Linked DNA regions of Homo sapiens: region 2 is linked to region 1. A link means that fine-mapping ties the variant in region 1 to the plasma level of a protein whose gene starts in the linked region. Region 1 holds a variant in brackets. A gene starts in the other region. All regions are shown on their forward strands.

Region 1 (10,037 bases):
AATCGAGCACAGCAGCTGCTGGCCCAGGTGCTAAGCCCCTCACTGCCCAGGGCTGGCGGGGCTGGCTGGCAGCTCCGAGTGGGGGGCCCGCCGAGCCCACGCCTACCCAGAACAGGCACTGGCCCGCAAGCGCCCCGGACAGTCCCGGTTCCTGCCCCCGCCTCTCCCTCCACACCTCCCCTCAAGCTGAGGGAGCCGGCTCTGGCCTTGGCCAGCCCGGAAAGGGGCTCCCACAGTGCAGCAGTGGGCTGAAGGGCTCCTCAAGTGTGGCCAGAGTGGGCGCCAAGGCCTAGGAGGCGCCGAGAGCAAGCGAGGGCTGCCAGCACGCTGTCACCTCTCAGGACTACAGGTGCACCACCATGCCTGGCTAATTTTTATTTCCTTTCTGATGTTTTAATTTAATTTATGATGTTGACCTAAGAGATGGAAACCAGGGCTGCTCTGGCAAAGACAGGGCTTATAGTTTCCCTCAATGCCAGAAGAGAAGGGAAAAATTTAAAACCATATCTTCTTTCCCTGTTCAAATCACTTCTCACACACATATTCCTTGTATTCTCAGTGAAACCACAAACTTGACCTTCTTGGATCTTTCTTCTTGATGGTTGGTCTATTTATAACATAGGAATGTGTGGACTTACTGACTACATTTCTAGTTAGGCAACCCCAAATTCTGCATTTCCCAACAAGCTAATGAACAAGGCCACCTCAGTGAAGATGGGGTTTCCTGGGTCTCACCCCAACTGATTCCCTCCATCATCTTAAAGCAAGTCACTCAATACCAGGCCTCAGCTTCCTCAACTACAAAAGGAAGGCAATGAACTATGTACTCAATAGAACTACAATCTTTCTACCAGTTGAAATACTTATTTTCTTTTTTTTTTTTTTTTGAGAGGCAAAATCAATTACTTCCTTTTCAATTGTCCTCTGGTGCTTTATTCCAATTTCTATTATATTTAACACTATCCTATTGCATTACAATTAGTTGTGTGTCTGCCTCTTTTCCTCATAAATTACAGGTTCCATAAAGACAGGCGTTGTATTAAATTTACCCTCGTATTCACAGCATTTAGTATTATGCTTGGCACTGTATTAGGCTCTAAATACATATCTATTGAATGAATAAATATGTAAGCTACTTTAAAAATGCCCATTCAGGCTGGATGCGGTGGCTCATGCCTGTAATCCCAGCACTTTGGGAGGCTGAGGTGGGCATATCACGAGGTCAGGAGATCGAGACCATCCTGGCTAACACGACGAAACCTCGTCTCTACTAAAAATACAAAAAATTAGCTGGGCGTGGTGGCGGGCACCTGTAGTCCCAGCTACTCGGGAGGCTTAGGCAGGAGAATGGCGTAAAACCCAGGAGGCAGAGCTTGCAGTGAGCCGAAATCGCGCCACTGCACTCCAGCCTGGGCGACAGAGCAAGACGCTATCTAAGAAAAAAAAATGCCCATTCAGAAGTTCCAATTAGTCATTTACATATTCCTTTCCTTTCCCCCCCAAAAAAGAAAAACCAAAACACTCTATCTCAATTCTAAAATCGGGGCAAGATTTGAAAATTGATTAAATCAAAGGCAGTTTGGTTTTAAGATGAATTGGAGTAAATCCTACACTTAAGAAGGAATCTTCCAGCACTTTGGAAGGCTGAGGTGGGAGGATTGCTTGAGGCCAGGAGCTCAAGACCAGCCTTGGACACCATAGCGAGACCCTGTCTGAAAAAAAACAAAAAAAACTCTTTCCTTCTTCCTCACCTCCATCTCCCACTTCCTTCTGAGTTTATTGTCTAGAGTTAGTCATGCCTTAGAACATGCCCATGAACAATCTCCCCACATTTTCCACCCTAACTCCCATCCCATTAGAAAATCAATACGTATTTCACAGGTCGCGGTGGCTCACGCCTGTAATCCCAGAACTTTGGGAGGCTGAGGCAGGCGGATCATCTGAGGTCAAGAGTTCGAGACTAGCCTGGCCAAAATGGTGAAACCCGTCTCTACTAAAAATACAAAAAAATTAGCTGGGCGTGGTGGCATGCGCCTGTATTCCCAGCTACTCAGGAGGCTGAGGCAGGAGAATCGCTTGAATCCGGGAGGCGGAGGTTGCAGTGAGACGAGATCACCCCACTGCACTCAAGCCTGGGCGACAGAGCGAGACTGTCTGAAAAAACGAACAAACAAAAACACGGGACCAACAATGCTCATTCTAGAGTTTGACATTACCTAGATCAGACTTGAAGCAGCTTGGTTACGAATCATTTGAGAGATCCCGAAACGTTCACAGAGCTGGAAGTATATTTTCAGTAGGGAAGAAGACATTCTTCAGATAGTATCATCAAGTGTACAAAATTTTTAAAAGATTTATTTACATATATCAAAGCATCACATTGTACCCCATAAATGTATGCAATTATGATTTGTCAATTAAAAATAGTATTGATAAAAAATGTAATGATGTTATTTGTAGACATGTAACATTTGAAAATAAATATAATTGTACTGATTTAGAGTGAACTAAGGAAATTTCATTTAAATGGCAAAGGAACATATGGTGACAGAGTAATATTACTAAAAATACTCACTAGAATTTTCCCTTAATATCTTTCCCTGATTTATGTGACATAAACAAACTACATAATGGTGTGAGGGACTATAAAGGTTTTATTGCCACTTGTTTGGTATTGCCTGCGTAACTCACTCTGAGTGCCAGTTGTGGGTATCTCAAACTAAGTGTCATAAAACATTTATAGCATGCCACTCCATTTCCTATACTTTTCATAGAGACAAAACTTTAGCGCTCACAAAAGTACTTATAAATATAATAGCTAGTTGTGAAAACTTTTTAATTTAGATCCCACATTTCCAGTTTGCAGGAAGAAAAATAAATGTAATGAAGATTTACGTTACTTCTCTGCATGAACTCAGATTAGTTCGCAAATTCCTTTTCAAAGAAAAACCACTTTTCAAAGATATCCTCAGTAAATGCATTTTGTAATTAACATAAAATTGGCAAAGTCGCTGTGCCTACACGTTTGAATTCATGTGTAAATAACGACTACTCACTTCCTTGCTTCCCCACCCGGGGACCAGGCTCCAAGCATCACAGGTGCAGAAAGACTTGCAAAAAGGAATGAATAGGAACAAAAGGATGTAGGCGCCAGGAGGAAAACAGGATCTTCCAGAACAAAATTAATCTCGCAAGGCATAGCAGATCCAACACCAGATTATTACCAAAGTTTAAACTTTTTCAATGGTCATCAGAGATAGCGTATCAAGTTTATTAGGTCTTTCACTACGGCTGATTTGCTTAAACCTTTATGTTATGCTTATCTTGAGGGATAGATTTCTGTGCTAAGCACATAATAGGTGTTAAACCAATATTGATTTTTAAAAGGAGGTGGTCATTAAATAGAAATTTTACTGTTATTTTAACCTTTAAATTTATGGCCCAAGGGCCAAACGATGATTTGTACGATTCCCTAGTTTCAATACTTGTGAGTTATTACAAGAAATACAACTCTGCTATGCAACAGAAGAACCGCAAATAGTCATTAAATTACCGCACACCAAGCAGCTTGGAGATCAGATAGGAAATGTTTGGGGAGAGAGTCCTGCTGAAGTTCCAAGTCTCAAACAAAACCCCTCAACATCAGAGTGCATGGTGAGTTTAAATTTATTGTAATTAAAGTCATCCAGATGGTAGTTGGATTAATCAATGAAGAGGTGGTTATCTATCTTGGGATAGAAGATTCTGAAACCCAGAGCGAGAAAAATCCCCAAGGTGGGGGTGGGGACAGTTAATAAGAGCCCTTGGGAAAGGCCCTTTCAGCGAGGATTGGAAAATAATACGTTTGAATTTGAATCTCTTTGAATATAAATCTCCCCTAACAGCAGGAAAAGGGTCCTCTAGCCCAGCAAGCTTTGGGGAGGGAGTAAGCGGAACTGCAAAAGAGCTCGCTCAGCTGTTTCTGGATTGGGGCGCAGAGAAAGAAATCGCGATCAGGGAACTGAGTACTGGAGTCCCTCAAAATAACCCGAAGGGTCAAATAGTGAGCTCCAAGCAAAGCGTTGACCCGGCTACCCCTGAGCAGCGCCCTACGCTGGGTTCCACTCCACTTCCCCTCCCCCGCGCGGGGCGATAGCCAGGCGCGGTCCCTTCCCACGCGGGCCGCGGCGAGTGCGGACAGCTCCCTTCCGGGCTGCGGAAGGCGGGAAGTCTGCGGTTCGCGGGCTCCGGCTGGCGGGCGCCCCTCGGAGTCCCTGAAGTCGGCCGGGCCCCGCAGGACCCGCGCCTTCTCGGCCCCAACTGTCCCTCGCGAAGCGTCCTGCGGTGGCGGAGGCCTCGCGGCCGCCCGCCAGCCCCGCGAGCGGCAAGCGCGGGGCTCAGAGGGGAGGCGGGGCAAGGCCGCGGGGCGGAGGGGGGCGGGAGGTGCATCCTGGGAAATCCACCAACATGGGGCGCAGC[G/GGCCGCC]GCCGCCGCCGCCGCCGCCGTCGCCGCGAGTCCCGGCCGCGGGTGCCTCCGCTTCCCTGACGCCCAGCTGGGGCCTCGCCGCCCGCCGCGGCCCGGGTCTTTGCGGCCCAGACTCGCCAGCGCGCCCTTCTCCCGCCTGCTCGCCGGGGCCATGTGAGGGGGCAGCTCCCTCCACCGCCGCCGCCCCCTCTTCCTCCCCCGCCCCCTCTCCCTGCCCGCCCCCGTCACACGGAGCCCTGGAGGATCCCCCGCTGCTGCCCGCCCTCCCTACGCCACCCCCACGATGGACAGGAACTACGCGACCTCGGGCTTCACCGAGCCGCCGCCGCCGCCGCCGCCCGCGCCCCCCGCCGCCCCCGTCCCCGCCAGCGCCGCTGCGCAGCCCCCCGCCCCAGCCTGGGCGTACGAACCCCGAGCCGCCGCCGCCGCCGCCAGCAGCAGCTGCAGCAGTGGCAGCTGCAGTAGCGGCAGCAGCCCCAGCCTCAAGGCCAGGTAGGGAGGGTGGGCGGCGGGGTCGCGGTGGACCAGGAAAGGCCGGGGATGCGTTTGGGGCCTTCGCTCGGTTGCAGCGCCGCCCAGAGGTCTGGGCCGGGCGGGGAGCCCTCCGCTCGCCCTCGGCCAGCTCGGGGGAGGCGGCTGATGACTCCTACGGGGTGGTCGCGGGTAGGTGGGGGCGCCCGGTGCAGGATTCGCGCCTGGGGACGGCGGGTGAAGGAATAGCTGGGCGGGAGTCGTGGGGCTCCGTCACCTCTTGGGTCCTGGGCTCTCACATGGTGAAGTTTGGGCTCGTGGCTGAACTCGGGATCTGTGAGACCCAGGATTGGCGCCGGGGGTCCGAAGGGGGCGCCGGAGAGTTTGGGGCAGTGGCGATCCATTGTATTGGAACCTGGGTGGCCGACAATGCGGTCTTGGGGACTCCGGCGTGTGAGGGTTGCGGAGGCGGGAGAGGAAGAGTCGCGGAACCGCGTCCCGGAGACACTGGGGGGCCCGGGAGGGCTGGGCTACGGGAGAATCCCCGGGGCGCAGGGCAGAAGAGGGGGCCCGGCAGGGCGCGAACGCGGCTCCAGGGCCGGGTGACATATGTTTGCGCTGGTGGCCAAGATTTAGGCGATTTTTCTTCCACGCGTTCAAAGTTGCTCTTAGGTTTCCTCCCCTTTTAACAACAGCAGGAAGTAAGGAATCTTTCTTTGCCTTCTATGCCTCGGGGTGACTGAGAGTTGGGAAGAAATGGGGCGGGGGTTGGGGTGGGGGTAGTGAAGGCCGTAAAGGTTGAAGAACCAAAGCATGCTTCTCCATCTCGGCCTTTAAGGTCCGGGTGCATTATGTAGCGTGGGGTTCAAGAGTTCATCTTGCATGACCAAGGGAATCTAAAATTTTGACTCCTACTTGATATTTAAGCTCGCGGGAAATGTGTAGTAGTGCCACACTGTGAAACGGTCCCATTTGAATGATAACTGGAAGGCGTGGTCTGGTTTGGAGAATTGGTGAGCGGGGTGTTTTAAAGCCACCTCTCCCGAACAATACAGAATCTGGTAGGTGCAGCTTCTGATTACATGGACCAGGGAATCCTGGGTTGCTAATGACTTCATCCTCAGCTACCAACAGGAAGCTTCGTGGCTTTATGATCTCATCAGATTTCTTCATTATTTTTCACGACAGAAGTGAACTTTTGTTTTAAGTTTATACATTACCGTGTTCCAGGTTATCTTCTTTGTTTTTACGAAAGTTCTACGTTCATGATTGAGCAAATAAGTGTGAAGGGTAGCTGGTCTTTGTCTTAGATTGTCCATTGGGACGATTGTGAAAGAATGAGAAAAATTTGCTTCAAGAATAGGAATATAAGCTTTCTCAGAAAATTTTAGGCCCTTTGTTTTCAAGACTTGGGAGTTAACAAAAATAATGTGATGTGCCAATTTGGAGCTAAGTAATTAAATGCTGAAACCTTTCAGAAATAGCCATAATTTTGTATTACATACAAGTAAGCCATTTTAAGGAGTTTCATGAAAGACGTTTGGCACTTCACCCATTATTTCTTGCTGATGGTAATTTGACTATCTTTTTCAAGTAGCTTTTTGCATTGACTAGGATAATTTACAAATGAAAATTACTTTCTCATCATTGAACAGCATGATAGGTATTTGTGCCGCATTTTTTATCTTTTAAATGAAAAATATTTATTAGGTAAATGGAACTGAAATACTACCTAGTTACTTCTTTTAGTAGAATACTTCTGAGGCAAGAAACTAAAATCTACTTGTCATATTTTCCAAATGTTATTTATCAGAGTAACACGAAATGACTTCCCAAACACACTTGAAAACAGTAAGTAGATTCACTTGGCACACATAATCTAAAGGAGATTTATTTTCTGTTTACTAGAAGTTATTGAATCTTAAATATTACCCCTCATGCCCTCTCCCCCTGCTTTTTTAAAAAATAAGCGGTGGGGGGAATCAGCTAAAATACAGCATAGAAAATGCAGGTTTACCCCCCTCCCCCGCCAGCCTGCTTTGTTAACATCTTGTATTGGGATCAGGCCATCTGTACAGAGTTACACTTCTGAATTATACCTCATTTTATTCCTCAAACTGTGCAAATATTCCCTTTGATTTCAGTTATATCAAAAATGGCAAATCTGAAATATGCCTTGTAAGTCTAAATATTCTACACTTCAGAAGCTTATTTATATTTTTATACCATTTTAAAAAGCTTTTTCATAATGCACATATCAGTTGAATGTTTTTGTTCCCCTTTGTGGCAGTTTCTTGTGAAGGTGCAAATGAGTACTAGTTGTGATGATGTAATATGGATACTTATCCATAAAGAATTAGCCTGTCTGTCACCTTGTTTCCTGTAACCTATTCAGAAGCTGACAGATGGTAATGACATTCAGTTGTTGCCGACAGGGATCTAACATCCTACTTTATGCCTTCTTGGTCTTGAAATACATCATTTTCATCAGTTGATGGGAAGGTACATGATAAACAGCTTTTCATGAGTTTGAAACAATACTTTTTTGAATACAACAGCTCTGTTAGTTATTAGGTAGTTTTATTGTACTAACAGTGGAAAAATAGAGTGGGAAACTCCAGCATTATACCTTAAATGGGGCTTATAGAAAGATTTTTGAATATTTCTCAGAGTACTTGCTAGGTACTTGGAAAGTACAGGGATAAGGACTGGCCATATAAATCTTCATTTATTTATGCTAATTTCAGTTCGTTTTAGGAACTAAATGAATGAACATGTCCTTTGCTGAACACCACGCAGTTGGAAATACCTTTTGGGGTGCAGTTTTGGATGTTGTAAATACCTTTGCATAGCTTGGGAAATAAGAAGGTCATCAAGAGTCTGCAGATCCATTGCCGCATTCTGTACTTGATACTTATATCTTGGTCACAACAGGAAGAGGCAGGCTGTTTTATGGTGATAATCGATGTGTTCGTATTTGAATATGCACCAGAAAGTAAGGGAATGGAAATATTTTGTATTTAAATAGGTTTATTTATTTTATTTTATTTTATTTTTTGCGATGGAGTTTCGCTCTTGTTGCCCAGGCTGGAGTGCAACGGCGTGATCTCAGCTCTCTGCACCCTCTGCCTCACGGGTTCAAGCAGTTCTCCTGCCTCAGCCTCCTGAGTAGCTAACCACACCTGGCTAATTTTTGTATTTTTAGTAGAGATGGGGCTTCACCGCATTGGCCAGGCTGGTAATTTTTGTATTTTTAGTAGAGATGGGGTTTCACTACATTGGCCAGGCTGGTCTTGAACTCCTGACCTCAGGTGATCCGCCCATTTTGGCCTCCCAAAGTGCTGGGATTACAGGTGTGAGCCACCGTGCCTGGCCTGTTTTTTGCCTTTCTAACTTGAAATAACTTTTGGCACCAGTTTTTAGAATTCCTAATGCATACTTTTTTTTAGTATGAGGTATAATGAGTATGATAAATACTCCTCTGAAAAACCAAAGTAATGATTAGCTCTTCTAAAACCTGTCAGTTTCTATATGATGGACATTTGTTTGATACATTTCAAATCTAGAGTTTTCCTCAAGGTTTTTGGGAAAAGGCCTTATAGATCATAATTTGTAAGGCGTAAGAACAATCTCAAGTTAATGAAAGGTTATTTCAGACAAACTTCCACTGTTAGAGTTCAGAAAGTTTTTTCCCATGGAAACCGTGTTGTAAGTAATAGTAGCTGTCATTTACATCACTAGCAACTAATTTGTGCTAGCTGTTTTAAGTCACACGTACATTCATTTATCAAAATTCATTTATCATGAATAAATGAATACATACATTCATTTATCAAAATTCATTATAAAAATCCTTTGAGGTAGGCATTCTTTTTACCATCCTTTTATGGATGAGGAAACTGAGGGATAGAGACATGAAGTAATTTATACCTACAGCTACATAGCTAGTAAATAGTGGTGCTGTGATTGAAACCTGGGCATTGCAGATCTGGAGCCTATGTGATAACCAGTGTACTGCACTGCTTTATTGTAAGATAGTGGAATGCTGTAATCCACCTATATGTGAAATGAGTTTCTGTGAGTTGGCCTGGAAACCTAAGCATCATTAATATCCTTATTTAAGTGTTCTTTGTCACCGTTGACCATTACCTAGTTGAAATACATTCCTTTTCACTTCCATAGCACTGTACTTGCCTGGTTTTCCTCCTACTTTTCTGGCCCAACGCTTTTTCCTGTTCTTCACTGGTGTTTACTCCTCTTCTGTCTAATCTCTGCATGTTACTGTTTCCTCAGGGCTTGGGATTGATAAATTTCTTGTTCATTCCTTGCTTTCTCCTGCGGACTCACATCCACGTCCATGCTTTTAAATACTATCTCAGTGGAGATGCCCATATTTGAGCAGACTCTTCTCAGGACCTCAGACTCTTCTGAAAACCTGATCACATAACCAACTACCTCTTTGACCTTTTACTTGAGCTTAATGATATGCTTTCCCCACCCATCACACCTCTGCTTCTCTAGTGAGGCCCATCTCAGTAGTCATACCTCTGTCCACTTAGTTGCCCAGGCCAGATGGTGGGAGTTGTGTGTGCTCAGTCACTAAGACCTACTGTTTTGAATCTAATGTCTTGAAACTGTCTGCTTCTTTTGTATCCACTGCTCCAGCTGGTCCAAGCCACCATTATTTTTCACTTGGACAACTGTGGTAGCTTCCTAACTTAGTCATCTTGGACCTTTTCTTTCCTCTCTTCAATTCATTCTTCTTATACCATCCAGAGTGATTTTTAAAAACACAGATCTACAAGTTTGCTCTTGGTCCTTTGCTTAAAGCCTTTCCATGGCTACTCCTACATATTAGGGTCACATTTTTAAACATCTGTAATATGGTCAGGCGTGATATCTCACGCCTGTAATCCCAGCACTTTGGGAGGCTGAGGTGGGAGTATTGCTTGAGCCCAAGAGTTTGAGACCAGCCTACGCAACGTGGTGAAACCCTATCTCTACAAAAAATAAATAGAAAAAATTAGCCGTGCATGGTGGCGTGCGCCTGTGGTCCCAGCTACTCTGGAGGCTGGGGTGGGAGGATGGCTTGAGCCTGGGAGGTGGAG
Region 2 (10,037 bases), not on the chromosome of region 1:
GGGTTTTATTGAGCACGTACCATGTGCTAAGCTGTGTAATAAATCCTTCTACATCTCTTACTCAGTGCCGGGAGCAGTTAAGAGTGATTGGTACTGGCCGGGCGCAGTGGCTCACGCCTGTAATCCCAGCACTTTGGGAGGCCAAGGCGGGCGGATCAGGAGGTTATGAGATCGATCGAGACCATCCTGGCTAACACGGTGAAACCCCGTCTCTACAAATACAAAAAAAATTAGCTGGGCGTGGTGGCGGGCACCTGTAGTCCCAGCTACTCCAGAGGCTGAGGCAGGAGAACGGCGTGAACCTGGGAGGCGAAGCTTGCAGTGAGCCGAGATCGCGCCACTGCACTCCAGCCTGGGAGATGGAGCAAGACTCCGTCAAGAAAAAAAAAAAAAAAAAAAGAGTGATCAGTACCTCTCTCATCTCCACTTTATAGACAAGGGAACCAGAACACAGAGAGGTTATGTGACTTCTCCCAGGGCTCACAGCAGTAAGTAGCAGGAGGTAGAAGTTCAACCCAGGCCTGTGTGGACAGCGTTGAACCATCAGCCACATGAGAATGACATCAGCCAAGGTGGCAAGCCCTGAATCCCAGAGGAATTCCTTAACAGGCCTGAAAGTAGCAGTGGCTGGGTCTGCTGGTGGGAGTTGGAGGGAACTTAAGGGTCCCTCATGGGGGATGGGATGAAGTCACACTGGGGAAACCAAGGCAGCAGTCAGGAGCCACTCACTAGGAAGGGGCTGCCAGACAGATCTGAAAAATATAGAACTCAGTGGAAAAGAGGAAAAATGGAAGGAGGCTGTAGCACCCACCACCTACCTATATTAAAAACTCACAAAGGCGCAGGACTCAGGAGCCCACTCTCTGGCTCCAGTCTGTAGTCAAATGCCTGCTAGCTGTGAGACCTGGAGCCAGTTCCTTTAGCTTTCTGTGCCTTGATTTCCTCAAATATAAGGAGGACGTGGTTTGAGCACCTATCTCAAAGGTGCTTAGCACATAGTATGTACTCCATATGTGATTATTGAATGAACAACCTCACAGTGTTTACAAGGACACGTGCAGACAAATCATCCAAGTTCAGGGATGCAGATCCTGTTGTCAGTGGGGAGCAGAGGAGAGGCATGGGGAATTAGGATCAAGGGAGAACATTGGTAAATTAAGTTTAGAGGGGACCCTGTTCAGAGAGGGACCCTGTTCAGAGAGGGACCCTGTGTAGCCTTGGCAGCATGCCATGAACCCTCTGCAGCACCGGTACCAATAAATCACCATTGACAATGAAAATAAGTCACCCTGTGTGATGCCTATGGGCCCGACTCCTGGAGAAAAGGCAGAAGATCACCCCCAGGACCTGCAACCTGCACACTCTTACCTGGGCTCAGCCAGGATGACGGCCACCTCCGTCTTTCATTTACGCCTTGATGCTCCCTCCATAAGTGGTTCCTGGAGACCTGAAATGGGCTTCATCTTCCTCTCAGCACCTTGAGGGAGCAGAGTTTGGCTCTTGAGGAGCATGTGTGGACACATTTGTCTTCTCCTCCAAGTATTTCCTCCTTCCTCCCTTCATTCTTCAACCCATACATCCCTTCACCACCTCACTCATCTACTTCTTCATTGGTTCATTTGGTCATTCACTAAAAAATATGTCTCAAGTACCCTCTGCATGCCAGGCTCTGTGCTGATGCTGTGGACACAGTATAGATAAGAAGATGTGGGCCTGGTCTCACCCTTGGACCTCAAAATCTATGTGGGAAATGATCAATACTCAATAAACAAACAATGGCACACAGGGCTAGAACCATGAAGGAAGAAAGTGGGTGACTGAGCTACAGACCAGCCCGGAGGGCCTATTTAGACGAAGTGATTAGGACAGGGGGACATCCTTGCGGAAGACTGTCCCTGGAAGTCCTGGGAAATGGGACATTCCAAACAGTGGTATGATCTCCCCATACTTGAGTGCCTCCATCCCTCTGCCCATCCGTCCATCATCTACTGAATTCATTCATTCCTTACTTATTCATTTATTTGTTCAACACATGAGGAAGCTGGCTCTACTTGGGGAAAAAAATTGTTTGAAGCTGCACAGATCTGTGTTCAGATCACAATTTTGCCATGTACTAGCCGAATGGCAGGGAAATGTTACTTATCTCTCCATGCCTCCATTTCCTCATCTGTCGAATGGGGATAATAATGTCTAATGGGAGACTGGTTGTGAGAATGAATTGAGATGAGGATTTGGTGAGATGGTGTCACCTGGAACACAGCAACTATTGTTCTGGTCCACTGGCCAGACACTTAGTGTTTGCCCGGCTCTTGTGGGGATGGACACACAACAACCCAATCGTAGCAGCCTAGGCTGCGGCCCATACTGGCTCCTCTAATCAGGAAAGTGGGGACATACCAATTATCCCCTTTTGGCCTCCTGAGGACCCTATCTGGTAGACACTAACATCATTTCTTTAAACAAGCAAAACTGAGGCACAGAGAGGTTGTTGATTGTCCGAGGCCCCCAGTAAATGGAAGAGCTGGGGGACACCTTGGCATTCTGCCTCCAAATCTACCATCCTGGCCAGGTCACTGGGCCGTTTGTTTTCAGTTTCACTGACATTGAAGAATGGCAGGTGCCCATGAGGCTCACCGGGTCATGTGAGGTTTCACCCACAGGTGGAATGGTCAGCACTTTGATCATGTTTTGGGGTGCCTGCTTCAATTGCTCGAGACAATTGGATTTCCTAAAAATGATGGTGGAGTTCAATGGCTTCCAGCTCTGCAGGCTCTTGTTACACTTAACATTGAGAGGCTTTGGCAGGTCAAGCTGGCTTGGAAATGTCTGGTCCTGACTCTGTGCCTTGTCTGAGGTTAAGAGACTTTAGTTTCAGCCTCAGATCTACTACTCATACGTGTGCTCTGAAACCATCTAGCATCTCTGAGATGTGTTCCACCTATTTCATAACACTGTCTGCCTTGTAGTCATGAGATGCTCTACAGCACAGAGCCCGTTCATACTTAGTGTTCATCAAAAGCCAAGTGAGCCTAGATTGGCCCCTAACACCTTGGGTTATTTATTAATGACACCTGTCAACAATGCTGGCCTCCTAGGATTTATTTTTTGCTTTGTTTGTTTGCTTGTTTTGTTTTGTTTTTTGAGACAGTCTTGCTCTGTCACCCAGGTTGCAGTGCAGTGGCGCGATCTCGGCTCACTGCAACCTCTGCCTCCAGGGTTCACGCCATTCTCCTGCCTCAGCCTCCCGAGTACCTGGGACTACAGGTGCCCGCCACCATGCCTGGCTAATTTTTTATATTTTTAGTAGAGACGGGGTTTCACTGTGTTAGCCAGGGTGGTCTCGATCTCCTGACCTTGTGATCTGCCCGCCTCGGCCTCCCAGAGTGCTGGGATTACAGGTGTGAGCCACCGTGCCCAGCCTGGGATTTGTTTTTAAGCATCAATAAATTAATGAGAAGAAAATGACTGACATTTATTGGGCAGTCCTTACATGCCCCCCACATACCCTGCCCTTTAATTTTACATATATGATTTTAGTAATCCTCATGTATCAATTAGTATACAACTTGACTCCAACAAAAGAAAATTCAGACTAACTACAGTTTAAACAATAAAATATTAAATTATTTCATGTAATGAGAAGTCTGAATGGTGGCTCCAACAACAACATGAAGTCCCAACGACTCAGACCTTTTTTTTGCTTCCACTCTGCCATCCTCAATTTGTTGACTTTTTATTCTCAGCCTCATATACCCAAAATGGCTGCTGCAGCTCCAACCATCACATTTGCACACAAGGAAAGAAAAGAATGAGTAGATGGTCATTCTCTTCCTGAGGAAGGGAATCTTTTCTAGAAGACCCTAGCAGGTTTCCCTTATGTCTCATTGGCCGGAATTGGATCAGAGGCACATCCCCAGGTCAGTAAATGGAGAAATCATGAGCACCATCTCTTCTGGGGTCATGTCTATAGGGATCATAAACCTCTTCCATGAACACAAGCCTGCTGCTACCTCCAAGCAGCCACACATGCTTCAGCATCCCTTGTTAATAAGCTACAGGAAAAGAGAAGAGAAGGAGTAACTGTCATTTAAACCTCAGTGTCGAGTATTCCTACTGAGACCTGGAGATGCTGAGAACTTGCCAAGGTGTGAGAGGAGTTGCAAGGAGGCCATTGTGGTTGGGCATGGTGCACGAAAGGGAGAGAGGAAGAAGTGTACAGGGAGCTGGCTGGCCCAGGGGCCACGCCAGGACTGGGGACTCTGTGCTGTGTGATGGGCAGGCTTTGGACAGTTGTATCCAGAAGATGATCTATACATGACGCTAGTTCAAGGATTGCTCTGAGATGTGTGGATGGTAGAAGGTGGGCAGGGAGGCTGGGTATCAGTCAGGAGGCTGTGGCAGCGGTCCCCATGGGGAGCACAGGGCTGGACTAGGACAGCCCATAGAAGACATCCCATCTCCTTTCTTGCCCAAGGAAGAGACTCAGTGGCAGCAGTGCAATAAGGGTACAGGCCAGGAAACCCAACCCCCCAGGGATAGCAAGCATCCAGAGACACGTGGGGACAGCTCCAGCACCAAACGGCTTCTGACCAATGAGCAGAGACGGCAAACAGCAAATGCGTTACCGTGGCTTTCACGTGTCATGAAGGTGATGCTGTAACCTGAGCCTCAGAGCTCATTTTATTTGTGAATTCCTATCATCTCTAGATGGGTGGACTGAAAGCCACCTCTTTCGCTTGCAGCTAGGTAGAGGGGAGTGCAAGAGGGCAAATGAAAACCAGAAGTAGGGTTGGGCGCAATGCCTCACGCCTGTAATCCCAGCACTTTGGGAGGCTGATGTGGGCGGATTACCTGAGGTCAGGAGTTTGAGACCAGCCTGGCCAACATGGTGAAACCTCGTCTCTACTAAAAATACAAAAATCAGCTGGGTGTGGTGGCACATGCCTGTAATCTCAGCTATTCAGGAGGCTGAGGCAGGAGAATTGCTTGAGCCTGGGAGACAGAGGTTGCAGTGAGCAGAGATCGCGCCACTGCACTCCAGCCTGGCCGACAGAGCGAGACTCTGTCTCAAAAAAAAAAAAAAAAAAAAAAAAAAAGAAAAGAAAAGAAAAAGAAAAAGAAAAGGAAAAAGAAAACCAGAAGTAGGAGCAGCCTGAAGAAATGACAGGGAGTTGATTTCCCACTGGGAGCCCTCTCAAAGCCCACACACCCGCCTGCCTGGGGTAACAGTATCTCCTCGGACATCCTGCACCCTCCCATGCTCCCCCCTCCCTACAGTAGTGAAAGACCTAGGCAGGATGACCCCAGCTCCTCTGTGAGAATTTCACACCCTAGTGTGAAGTCATAGCCTTGTAACTTTCCCTTTAAGAACTGTCAGAGCTGGGGAGGCTGGCCAAGCTCAGGCTGGAGGTGGGGACAGAGGGAAGAAAGAAAAAAAAAAAAGAGAGAGAGGCAGGAAAAGTTTTTTCAGAGGAAAATGCAGGGTTTGTCCTTCACCCTGACGTCAGATCTTGCTTTAATAAAACCCCCCAAGGGCTGCGGAAGAGGCATATCTGGTGCTCCTGATGGGCCGGCCAGTCTGGGCCCAGCTCCCCCGAGAGGTGGTCGGATCCTCTGGGCTGCTCGGTCGATGCCTGTGCCACTGACGTCCAGGCATGAGGTGGTTCCTGCCCTGGACGCTGGCAGCAGTGACAGCAGCAGCCGCCAGCACCGTCCTGGCCACGGTGAGTCCTGCCTGGAGGGGCTCAGAGGGAGACCCAGCTCCCTTCTCTACTGGGTCCTGCTACATGGGGGCTGGTGGGCAGGATGAAAAGGGCCAGGAAGGTTTGGGGCTGGAAGGTGGCCACTTACAGGGCAAGGACAGAGCCCAGGGTGAGGAGTCAGCTGCCCAGGTTGGCTGAAGCTGGCAGGGTGAGGAGGACGGTGCGACACTTGGGGAAACAAACTGCACAGGTCCAGCCTGCCCTCTCTCCCCACCTGAAACAGTGCAGAAAGAACGGGGCCCTCAGCAGAACTGGGAGTCAGGGGCCCGGGCTCCAGACCCGTCTTCGCCTAACCTGGCTGTGTGGCCTCGGGTGGGTCACTCACCCTCCAGGAGCAGCGTAAAGCGACGAAGTTGTTAGGTGACTTCTAGAGTCTCTGAGTTTGAAAACTCCAAGACTCCAAGCATTGGAGATGCTGCGAAGATGGGAGATGGAAAAAGCCAAAAAAAATTGGAAAGAAAAATGCCAGCTTTCAACAAAAGCTCCTTATTGAGCAAACAGTGCTCAGGGTGATGTCTAACCCCAACTGCTGTCACCTCCGGTCTGCACAGCCCTCTGCAGTCTGCAGAGTGTCCATACTTGGGTCCTGCCTATGAAGCCTGCTGTTCCAGGGTGGGGGTGATGTGGGCACCCCAGAGTCTCTCTCTCTTCCACCTGCACCCCAGGGTACACCAAGGGGAAGGGACAAAGGTCTGCACCTCCAAAAGCCAGGGGAGTCACATATGTGACCGTGTAGAGCCAGCCTGCTAGGGCCAGGCATGGTGAGGAAAAGGCAGAGGCAGGCAGTGCAAGGAGGGCAGGAGGTGGGTACCTGGCAGCTTCTGAGCCCCAGATTCCACAGCCCAGGGCAGGACCTGCTCCTGGCAGAACAGCCTAGAGACGGAGGGGTGATGGCAAAAGAGTGTTTATCCCCAAATGACACTGATGGCTTCCTTGGGGGTTAAGAAGCCCCCTTCACAGATAAGGAAACCGTGTGTTGGGGTTAAACCACTTGCCAGAATCAGACTCTAGGTCTGCTTCAGCCAGAACTGAGGCCGAGAGCCGACAGCAAACTGAGACCTGGGAAATAGGAATTCCTCTCAATGCCTCGGTGTGTGTAATGATGGCGGGGAGTGGGTCTGTTTCATCTTGGTTAAATCCTCACGCCTGGCATGGTGCCTGACTATAGTTGGTTCAGAACCACCTTACCAGAAAGTTATCAGCTCCATTTCACAAATGAAAGAAATGGAAAGTGAGAGCAAGTAAAGGACTTGCCCAGGAGCTCCTCATTAATAAGTGGCCAGGGCCCAAACTTAGATCTTCTGATGCCAATTTCTAACCATTCCTACTTAGGGGAAGCTGACTGTGTCCTACAGGAGTGCCCAGAAGGAGCTAAGTCGCTGTTTATTTCGGCTCTGGGTATGGCTGCGCCTTTATTTGGGTATAGCTTTGCAGGTTGCTATGTCTGGGAGGGCAGGGAGAGGATGGAGAAAAGGTGAGCGTTTGAGAGAAGCCAAAGTCTGAGTGGGCAGAGGAGGCGAGAGGTTTAAGCATGAGTCCAAGTACTCTGGAGCCCCAGTCAGCTCCCAGAACAGCCGGTGCTGAGGAGGAGTGAAGGACAGAGCCGAGGACTCAGCCAGAGGAGACCAGCAAAGGAGCAGAGCGTGTGGAGGGACCCAGGGAGCAGGTTGGAGGGAAGGCTCCCGGGACCAGCACAAGGTACCTCTCTTCTAGGCAGCCCCTGCCTGGGGAACCCAGACCACCCACCCCATGCTTGTTTCATGATTTAGATGCTTCTGGGACAGAGGTGTGCACGGCACTGGAGTTCTCAGGATGTCCTGAAAGCCCCGCCCCCTGTGTGGGCTGTGAGACTGATAGAAACGAGCTGGACTCCATTTGGAAACCAGCCTTGTTTCATAGCCAAATTCCATACATGGTCATCCTCCCGAATTAATATGCAAAGGGAGCACATGTCCAACCAGGGTCTCAGTGAGATCTTAATGGAAAAAATTGTTGTAAATGTTCATATTGAAGAAAATGCATGTGAGAATTGCCAAGAAAACTTTGAGGAAGTAGAGTTACAAGGGGGACTTCTCTGGGAGATATGAAAGCACTCTGTAAAGATTCTGCAGTGGAAGGAGGAAGATGGCAGCCCAGAAGGAGATCAGCCAAGGAGGAAGGCACTGGAGTGATCTCAGGAACAGCCGAGTGTATTTGGGAATTTAATCTGTGCTAAAGGTGTATTGCAAATATGACTTATGCTTTCATCTCTTTATTCTTTTCTTCTGCATTTGTTGAGCATGTCCGCCATGTGCTAAGAGAAAGGGACTCCATTTAATGTGCATTAGCAAGCACTGAGCCAACACATGTATAAGACCAACCTCAGTTCACCCAACAAACATTTATTAGGCACATTCTACAATTCCCATAACAATATTATTTAGCAAGTGCAATTATCCTCCTTAACAGATATGAAAACTGAGACTCGGAGAGGTTAAGTAATTTGTCAAAGGTCACACAGCTGGTAATCAGGGAAGCTGACATTTGAACCTTGGTCCAGCTCTTGGTAATGTAGCCTCCTGCCTCCCTGGTCCAAGGGCAGAAACCAGGGGCATGTAGTCCCTGCCCGACAGAGTTTACTGGCTAGTGGGGCAGGTGACAGGGGTAACGTCAGCCAGAGTAGAGGGGCTGGAATCAGGCTCTGCCACTGGCTGTGTCGGCCGCACTAAGTCCCGTTGCACCTCAGACCTCACTTTCCTCGTTTGTTAATTGGGACTAACTGTCTCACCACACCAAGCTCCCTGCTGCTGAACGTGAAAATGTGCCTGAGGAAAACCTCTCAGAAGTGTGTAATTCAGCAAACGAAAGCTGAGTGATAAAATCCTGGGCAAGCATTAGGCCTGTGGTGGTCTATGTATAGGTCTACAGGTAAAACCCACATCCTCCCTCCTGTATCAGTGCATGTGGGATGTGCATAGCTGCACTGTGTGTGTGTGGGGTGGGGTGTGTTTGTGAGAGGGTGTGTGGGGGTATGCGTATGGTGTGTATGTGGGGTGTGTCTGGTGTGTGTGTGTGGTGTGTGTGTGTATGTGTGTGCCTGTGTGGTGTGTGTGGGGGGGTGGTGGTGTGTGGGGGTGTGTGTGTGGGGTGTGTGTGTGGTGTGTGGGGGTGTGTGTGGATTTGTGTGGTGTGTGTGTGGTATGTGTGTGTGGTGTGTGTGTGGTATGTGTGTGGGGTGTGTGTGTGTGTGGTGGGGGGTGTGGTGTGTGTGGAACATGAGTGTGGTGTGTGTGGGGGTGTGTGTGGTGTGTATGTGGTGTGTGTGGGGGGGTGGTGGTATGGAGGGGTGTGTGGGGTGTGTGGGGTGTGTGTGTGTGGGTTTGTGTAGTGTGTGTGGGGTGTGTGGGGTGTGTGCGTGTGTGCGTGTGTGGTGGGGGATGTGGTGTGTGTGTGGTGTGTGTGTGGAGGGTGTGTGTGGTGTGTGTGGGGATGTGTGTAGTGTGTGTGTGGTGTGTTTGTGGGGTATGTGCCTGGGGTGTGTGGGGGGGATGTGTGGTGTGTGTGTGTGGTGTTTATTGTGTGTGGTGTGTGTGGTACGTGTGTGTGTGGTGTGTGGTGTGTGTGTTGAGTGTGTTTGTGGTGTGTTTTTGTGTGTGTATGTGTGTGGTGTGTGTACTGAGTGTGTATATGGTGTGTTTGTGTGTGTGGTGTGTGTGTGGTGTCTGTGTATGTGTGTGGTGTGTGTGTTGAGTGTGTATGTGGTTTGTGTGTGTGTTGTGTGTGTGGTGTGTGGTATGCGTGTGTATGCATGGTGTGTATGTGTGTGGTGTGTATTATGTATGTAGTGTGCTTGTGTGTGTGTGGTGTGCGTGGTGCTTGTGCATGGTGTGTGTATGGTGTGAGCATGTTTGTGGTGTGTGTGTGTTGAGTGTGTATGTGGTGTGTTTGTGTATGTGGTGTGTGTGTGGTGTGTGTATGGTGTGTGTATGTGTGTGGTGTGTGTCTGTTGAGTGTATATGTGGTGTGTTTTTGTAGTGTGTGGGTGGTGTGTGTGTGTTGAGTGTGTATGTGTTGTGTTTGCGTGTGTGGTGTGTGTGTGTGTGAACCTTGTGTTTGGGTGTGAGATACAAACTCATTCTCTGCTTCCAGAAGCAACTGCAGAATAATGTGGGTCAAGTGTATGGCAAAATATCCCCTTTAGAAAACAGAGAATGTGAACAATATGTCTTTTCACACCTCCTGTTTAGAGTTGGAATCTGAGTGAAGATTTCAAACCCCATCCAGGCCCCACACCCC

Which allele goes with the higher level. Positions count from the first base shown, and alleles are read on the strand shown. Strength reflects both the effect of a copy and how common the allele is.
For the plasma level of the protein whose gene starts at base 5,549 in region 2, G is the low allele of the variant in region 1 and GGCCGCC is the other (weak association).

What was found. PIP is the chance, under the fine-mapping model, that this variant and not a neighbour inherited with it causes the effect. Protein levels are from antibody-based Olink assays in UK Biobank. Linkage for the fine-mapping came from a reference panel and not from the study's own genotypes, which makes the PIPs less certain.
Region 2: it holds the start of CCN4, and the variant in region 1 is fine-mapped to the plasma level of the CCN4 protein (UK Biobank, PIP 0.98).

What each region holds. Positions count from the first base shown.
Region 1 is chr11:32,888,385-32,898,421 of GRCh38, forward strand. QSER1 (glutamine and serine rich 1) reads left to right here and starts at 4,427. Exons shown (of 13, transcript NM_001076786.3): 1 at 4,427-4,950. The coding sequence starts at 4,742. RefSeq lists an enhancer at 2,778-3,352 and silencers at 4,100-4,719, 4,800-5,199. The variant G/GGCCGCC (reference allele first, on the strand shown) is at 4,459.
Region 2 is chr8:133,185,491-133,195,527 of GRCh38, forward strand. CCN4 (cellular communication network factor 4) reads left to right here and starts at 5,549. Exons shown (of 5, transcript NM_003882.4): 1 at 5,549-5,723. The coding sequence starts at 5,655. RefSeq lists a silencer at 6,421-6,668.